Linked DNA regions of Homo sapiens: all the other regions are linked to region 3. The links come from fine-mapping of genetic effects on gene expression. A gene starts in region 3. Each other region holds a variant in brackets. All regions are shown on one strand. Distances are between the middles of the regions.

The links. PIP is the estimated chance that this variant, and not a neighbour inherited with it, causes the effect.
Region 1: its variant is the best candidate, but not a certain one, in a credible set for the expression of RORA in whole blood (INTERVAL, PIP 0.82).
Region 2: its variant is the best candidate, but not a certain one, in a credible set for the expression of RORA in whole blood (TOPMed, PIP 0.74).

What each region holds. Positions count from the first base shown.
Region 1 is chr15:60,820,329-60,823,007 of GRCh38, reverse strand. All of the region lies in intron 1 of RORA (RAR related orphan receptor A), which reads left to right. Among named protein-coding and RNA genes, the nearest start is that of RORA-AS4, 58 kb to the right of the region's middle. The variant A/G (reference allele first, on the strand shown) is at 1,103.
Region 2 is chr15:60,696,765-60,699,443 of GRCh38, reverse strand. All of the region lies in intron 1 of RORA (RAR related orphan receptor A), which reads left to right. Among named protein-coding and RNA genes, the nearest start is that of RORA-AS2, 17 kb to the right of the region's middle. The variant G/A (reference allele first, on the strand shown) is at 1,258.
Region 3 is chr15:61,227,696-61,230,374 of GRCh38, reverse strand. RORA (RAR related orphan receptor A) reads left to right here and starts at 1,073. Exons shown (of 11, transcript NM_134261.3): 1 at 1,073-1,322. The coding sequence starts at 1,157.

The sequences.
Region 1 (2,679 bases), 410 kb after region 3:
AGGATGGAAGAAAAGAAGAAAGGAAGGAAAGATGGGAAAGAAAGAAAGAAAATAATGAAGGGTACCTAATGTAGAATTTGGATTCTAACACGTTTCCAGGTGACACTGCTAATTTGGATGGAAGACATTTCACTTGCCTTATGAATTAGCTTAGCATATATTAGAATCACCTGGAGCCAGGGGGTGGTGCCTTTAAACGAAATACTGATGCCTGGCCCCACTCCCAGAGATTCTGTTAGCATTTGTCCGGGCCTGACCCTGGGCATCAGCATTTTTAAAGGCAGCTAATGCGCATGCTAGGTGGTGCCAGAAAGCGTGGTGCTGATTGCTGAGCACTGGCTAGTGTATACATCCTGGGGTGCTTCACCACCCAGATGCTGATTCACACACTCAACAGTCAGCCTCGTTGTGGGGAGCATTGCCTTCTTCTGAGGTGGATCTCACAAATCCCCAGTTGCAATGTGAGCCTGTAACTCTACCCACCTGTCATATGAAAGAACTGGATCTGGATGGACCTGCTTGCCTTGCATTTGAGCTCCAGTGTGGAGCGTTTCCACTGAGGTTAAATCATGGACGGTTGGACTGTCTGTACCTGACCTGGGAAGCTGGGATGGGAGAGTGGTGGGGAATGGGCTGGCTCATGGGTCTGTGTTAGTGTAGCTGGAGTTAGGAGAGCCAGGTTCATTTCCAGTTCTGCTCTGGTGAAGTAGAGACCTTGGCAAGTCATAGCACTCCTTGGGCTACAACTTCTTCCTTTGCAAAATGAGGCTCTTGAACTAGGAGATAACTATGCTTCTTTTAAACGATCAAATTCTGGCAATTTCAGTTGTGGAAGTAAGAGTGAAATTGAACCCCAATTTTCCCTTTGATAAAATAAGAGTTTTACCATTTACCACCAAACCTTGTTTCATTGCTCTCACCCTCAGTTTCTCTAGCAATACAATCAGGGTTTGGACTACACAGTGTATATATTTTTTTTAGTTCTAAAATTCCGTGCTTCTGTGAATACTGCTACTCATTGCTTTATTCAGATTTCCTTTATTTATTCAGCAAACTTTGAGTTTTTAGTATGAGGCTCAGGAGTCAGACTGCCTGGATTCCA[A/G]TCCTCAGCTGACCACATGCTAGCTGTGTGACTTTGATCGAATTACCTAAACCCTTTGGCCTCATTGCTCTCACTTATTCACATGGGATTAATAAAACTGGGGCTCTTGTAGAGTGATTGTGAGGATAGAGTAGCATAGCAAGTATTGCACAAAGGAGTATCTTGCACCTAGTGCAATGCCTGCCACATAGTAAGCACTCAGTAAATGTTTTTATCAGTACCATCAGGCCCCACACTAGTTGCTACGGATGCAAAGATGAGTAAGACACAGTCCTTGGCATCATAGAGCTTACAACCTAGGCAGGGAGGAGAAAGAGATACAAATCACTAGAATATGATGTGAAATGACAAAAGTGTGTTCCCAGCCTTTGAGGAATACAGAGGAGAGATAGGGGATAAAAGTGGTGAGTTACTAGTCACGTGGAAGCCTTTGAGCCACTTTGGGTGGTGAAAGGAAGAAGGAGCAGGCTCTTAATGCGAGCCCTACCTTCTGGAGGACTTAAGGGGACCACAGGCGCCAGGACACGGGCAGCAGATGGAGCGGACCCAGTGCAGAGCGTAGGGGCTAGAAGCCCCGGATCCAAACAGCCAAGGGGACAAGAGTCAGCACTGAAAGGGAACAGCACACAGCAGGGAGACGGAAAGAGGCTATGGCAAGGGGGAGTTGGCTAAGTAGAGCACACACTGCAGCCAATGATCAGTGAACCTGGAGGCACTGGAGGCATCTCCAGTGGAAGATGGATCCCTTGTACAGCCTAACTGGCCCTGTTACCTGGTGGAAGGAGCCAATGTTGGCCAAGGTCCTAGGCCCTACAGCTGGAAATAGGTAATTGGTGACACCTGGCATAGGTGAGGTATCCTCTGGCAGTGGGACAGCCACAGTTCCTGGTGGTGTTCCCTTCCAGAGAGTCTAGAAGCATAGAATTGCAGAGCTGGGGTGGGGGGTGGGGGTTAGAGATCAACCACCCCATTTACAGATCCCTGTACCACAACCAGAATCCTTCAGGGAAGGACTTTGGAATCTGCATTTTAAGCAGCTTCACTCATAGTTCTCTCATCTGTAGTCTGTGACTGCACTTTGAGAGACATTGTGAGATACTATATAGTCAAGGGAACCTCAGTAATGAAAAACCAAGACTAAGCCGACGGATTGAAAATTAGAAGTTGGGACCTCCAGATCTGCCGTTTTTACGGTTTAGGGGAAACCTGTGTTGTTTTCCTCAAAGTTTCCTGAAGGACCCATTCACCTGCCACCTCCACCCCCACCCCTCTGCCTTTACTCCCAGTGTGAAAGCTATAGGCCAAGAGGGTAGCATTTAGCTTTAAAATGTTTAAAAATTTTACAGAAAAGAGAATGCGCCTTTTTTCCCTCAAATCTTAAACCTTCTTCACGCAATGCAGGCCTCATTTTCACCAGCCCTTTTCCTATGTTTTACATAAAAATATAGAAGGTTTAATCAAGGGTCTGTCCGTTTCTTCAAGACCTCCAACACCCTTAAAGCTAGGGTGAGGGGGATTTTCCTGTCTCTTCCTTCCTTTCAACCCCTTGAAAGACAACACCTGATACTGTCCAATCT
Region 2 (2,679 bases), 530 kb after region 3:
GAGAACAAAGAAAGACATAAGATAGTTGGTGTGTTGTTTAGATTCAAATCTTGAGAAGTGGAGTGAAACAATTTCTGTGCAAGCTAAACTAGAGCAAGAAAAAAGTATATTTAGATAATTTTATTTGAATTTTTAAATTAAACATAAAAAGTAAAATCATAAAAATATTTTAAGTATAGGTGAATATATTTTTGCAATAAATAAAGTCCTTATAGGCATGCAAGGAAAGGCAGAAACCATAAATAAAAGATTACTAGATTGGATATTTTAAAGAGGATATTTATAGTAGAATTATTTTTAATAACCAAAAAGGTAGAAATTACATAAAGGGCTATGATTATCAATAAGTGGTAGAGCTAGTTTACATATACAAGAAACAAACTAAACAAAATTTAAAAGAAAAACTGGGGAGACAAGCAACATATGATTAACTATACAGAAGTCTTATAAATTAGTAAGTAGTAAAGGACTAATACCACAATACAAAAGTGAGCAAAGATTATGAACAGGCGATTAACAAAAGAGGAAATACAAAAGTCAAGAAACTTAGACAACAAAAACAAAATTTTTTAAAAATGCAGACAAAACAACATCATAAATGAACAAAGAAATGTCAATTTTAAAGGGACACCTTTTTAGCCAGTTAAATTATCAGGATTTATTTTTCATGATAAAGTTCTGCATTGGGACAGGTGTACACTAATCTAGGAATTATAAATTGGTAAACACTTTTTACAGGACACGATGATATCTATTCAATGCTTTTTAAAAGTTAAACTTTCAAGAATGTACTTCCAAAAAAAAAAAAAAAAACACAAATGCCAAAAGAAATCTATGTAACAAGGATATTTATAGTAGAATTACTTTTAATAACCAAAAAAGTAATTATGACATAAAGGGCTATGATTATCAATAAGTGGTAGAGTTAATGTAAATTTTAATTCTCCATTAAAACATTTAAAATTTTTTTCTACATGTCCTACAGTGAATATATAGTATTTTCAGTATTTAAATCATAATGTATCCTTCTTAAGAAAGATATTGGAGTGCTTTCACAGTGCCATGTCAACGAGGGGCAGGCTAGGGAGTGGTCGGCCCAGTAATTTATTTTATCACTGACATTACTAAGAATTGTCAGGACAGAGTAATAATCAAAAGCAAGCCAGCTTTTAGTGGGGCTTTTTTATTGTTTTTAGGCCATTGCCTGCACACTCCCACAGCATTCCCCATTCTTGAAACTTGACTATAGCTACTGAC[G/A]CTCCTGGAAAGAAGGAGGAACAGAAGACATCTCAGCTGAAGCATGGAGTATATATAAAAATCACTTGAAACTGAGACTTGATACAATGTCTACAATAAAATACAGAATCACTTCACGACTACAGACACGGAAGTGTTTTTTCCAGCTTACCCACATGATCCTGCTTTAAGTGTAGCATGGCATCATTTTCACTTTGTAGGCGTTTATTTTACACACATGTGTGGGATACCCACAGGAGCCTCGTTTCTCATTATTATATAGGAACTTCACAAGCGGAAGTGTTGTTGGCTGACTGAGAGGTATAACTCTGTGTTTCTCTCCCAGAGGAGCCGTGAATGAGATACCATGTAATATGAATGGAGACCCCCTTAGGCACCCTATAAATTTATTATAAAGCACTGGATTTTGAAATAACAAAAATAACATATGAAATTTGAGGAAAGTATAAAAATTAGAAATTTACGTCTCTTCAGAGTTACCCTAGACCACGGATTCTACTGAGTAACCGGCCTGATTGTGTGAACCCAAGAGCAGGCCTTATTTTATGTAGAGCAAGCAGGCAGAATTACTGCAATGTGTGAGTGGCTCTGAAGTTTCCAGTGTTTGGAAAAAAAAAAAAAAGTAGACTTGAAGGAAATAGCAAATGTAGATGACTCTGCAGGTTAAAGCAAGAAGAATAGATGGTTCAATGAGGTTTTGTTCACTTTTAACATCCACTTTGTAAAGGATCCTTAAAAAGGTTGTGTTTAGGGTTTTGGCTGTACTTGGAAGATGGAAGAAGGGAGGCTTCACTTGAGCGGCAGTGTGGTAGACAAAGCATCTAACCTAGGCTTGTGGCTTTTGAAAAAACAGTTTGTTGGGGTACATGTAGCTCTTTGCTCTAGATGTTTATTCCAATGGGCTTGGCATTTGGTTATCTTTTAAGGAAGTCATAAGCAGAGGTAACATTTGTAATGTGAAATTACTTGAAATTCTATAAAAAGCAATCCATAGCAATTGGCGTTGCTTTTAGTTCATGAAAGCTTAAAAATCTCTCGCCCTGTGTATTGTGGCAGCCAGTCAAAAGTGAGAGCAGAACATAAACCTCGTTCAGAAACCAGGCCCGCATTTTTGCTCCATTTGCAAATCCTTTACAATCCCAGAAAACAGTTGCCCTCTTTCTGTTGCCCACCCTAAATGCAGGTGATATTTACCTATTATATCAGTTTAATGAGCAGGCCATCTCACACTCATTAAGTCGATTTGAAAAATGATCAGAAGAATCAGGACTGTGTCCTCCGAGAATATAAATGCCTCTAAGGCTATATCCATTTTAGGAAAACCAGGTCTTTTACCTTTGCTCTGGCCTCACCTCAGCGTTTTCTTCTACAGCAGAAATAATGCATTTAGTCATTTCAGAACACTGGTTTAATGCATTAATA
Region 3 (2,679 bases):
GCTTTCCTGGAGTTTTAGGTACCTACTAGGGGATGAATGTATTTCAATGGGAGGAGGGTGTAGAATGATGCCTATAATAATACGAATTATTAGGAGCTGTTAATTATCTGAATGTTATCCGGGCATTAGTAATGCCTCTCCAGTATATCTACCTTTTATGGATGAGACTGTACATTTAATAGGAAAAGTACCAGTGGGAATTGACAATTAGCAGCCACGCTTGAGCTAGATGCAGCGTGGCATGTTTTATCCAGCTTAGATAGTTGTCGACCAAACAGGCCAAAGTTTTCTTCAGTAGAAAATGCCCTGCCAAATGGTTTCTGGATCCTTCGCGGACAAACAGCAAAGGAGCTGAAAGCGACCTCTTTCAACCATGCCAGAAACTGTCCATGGCGCTTCTAGATTCACAAAATCTGTTTTAGACACAGATGTCTTTAACCAAGATTGGAAACCCACTGGCCGTCCCATCCCAAAGTAAAAAGTGCCACGTCCTCCCATCCTCCGCCTTCCTTGGGATGTCAGCCCCGTTCTAATTCCTTTTTAGTTTCTCCTCAGCCCTCGGCAGGGCTGGCAGGGGGCTACCTGCGATTTCCCAACGTGGACGTGGACAATCGGATTTGTCTCTACCCAAGCTGGCAGCGGATGGGGACGAGTTCTGTTCCCGAGAGAGTCTCAGAAGTAGGCACGGAATCATCTCACCGATTTTAATTTCTGTCCCTGGGCTGGGGAGAGGGGAGGATTGGGGCGCGGGAGGCTCTGTTCTCCTCCTCCCCTCTTTTCCCCACCTCCCAAAATTGGCAGCCAGTCTGTGGCTCTCGGTCTGGGGTCTGGAGGGTGGGGAATGTGGGTGTGGGGGCCGGCTGGAGAAGCTCTCGCTAGCGCTGCCTGTGGCCAGACCCGCCTCTTGTCCCCTTTCGGGCGCACACACACGTCCACCCAGACACTCCGCGCGCTCCCTCGCGCTTTTGCTTGCCCGCCCGCCGCCGCCTGCTTTTTCCCTCCTGCTTTCGCCGGTCGCCTTCTCCTTCTTTTTTTTTTTTTTTTTTTTTTTTTTTTTTTTTTTTTTTTTTTGGTACCATAGAGTTGCTCTGAAAACAGAAGATAGAGGGAGTCTCGGAGCTCGCCATCTCCAGCGATCTCTACATTGGGAAAAAACATGGAGTCAGCTCCGGCAGCCCCCGACCCCGCCGCCAGCGAGCCAGGCAGCAGCGGCGCGGACGCGGCCGCCGGCTCCAGGGAGACCCCGCTGAACCAGGAATCCGCCCGCAAGAGCGAGCCGCCTGCCCCGGTGCGCAGACAGAGCTATTCCAGCACCAGCAGAGGTAGGAGGCTGGAGAGGGGCTGGGGAGGGGGCGGCGGGAGCCCGGGCGCGGAGCGGGGGGCGGCCGGGAGCGGGCGCCCGGGGCGCGGGGTCCGGCGGCCGCGCGCGAGCCTGCGGCGGCGCCCCGAGCCCGGAGGACCCCCCTCCCCTCCCCCCTCCGCCCCCCAGAAATGTTGCAAACTTTTGCAGCCCGTTCTCGGCTTGCGGGAGCAGAGTGGGGCGGGGGAGGCGGCGGGAAGGTTGACAGCCGGCGGGCTCACCCCCCTGGCTTTGATTTTTCTGCAAACACTGGAGGAAAGCTGCGTTGCCTCAATTAAATACGCTCCCCCAAAATACGGAGATGCGGGGAGTGGGGGCCCGGGAAAGAAACTTTTAAAGCGGCAGTGTCCTTTTAAGAAGGGGCAAAAAAATCTGTTTATGGCCACCCTCCTTCCGCTTTACCTTTTCTCCTCTTGACAGTTTCGGCCCTGGCTGCCCGAGTCGGGGGTGTGTTTTCGGTCCCTCTCAGATCTGGGCGGGGGGCGGGAGGAGTGAGCGACCTGGGAAGTCCCGGGGGTGGAGAGGGGGCGCTCCGGGGTCTGGGGGCGACGTGGACACCTTCTTTGGAGCACGGCGGTGCGTTTGGGATTTGAAGGAAGGGCCGAAGGAAGCGGGGTGCGGGCGGGCGAGCTGTTCGCCAAGTTGTCTGGCGGGCGCGGCGAGGGGAGATGCGCAAGTTTGCAGACCGGGGGTTCGGAGCCCGGCGCCCAGGCTGGCGGGGGGCGTGTGCGCGCCAACGCGCAGAGGGCGGCGGTCCTGTGGGGCGCTCCACGCGCATCCGGAGGGAGCGTCTACAAAAGCAAGCACCGAAACTTATTTCTGCTCTGGGAATCCTTCCCTCTCGGAGGTTCCAAGCATTTCTGCAGGAACCTGGGGATGGTCAGTGCAAGTTGTATGCTGGTTGGATAGTGCAAGCAATGTTTTCTCCTCCCCTGGCGATTTTTACTCTTCATTTTGGTGTTTGGTCTGTGTCTGCGTGTGTTGGGGGGGATGGGGGGGACTCAGTTGCTCCCTCCTTTCCTAAAGTGAGCTGTTGAGGAAAGCTCACTCTTTCTTGAAGGTATTGGAACCTGATGTGTGTTTTTCTCGAGAGTGGGGGATTATTTATTTGAATGCGCCTGGAGTTTGCAAAGAACAGGAGGAAGCTACAGCTTTAATTACTGTTGTAAATAATGTATAAATCGCGCCTGTCACTCCGGAGGAAGCGTGCTCGCGCGAGCCGCCTGGAGCTGGGGACGGAGAGGATTTCTCCAGCCCCGGCTTGGGTACCGGCCCAGCGCGCCCCCTCCTCTTGCACTCGGCTTCTGGCGGCGGTTGGG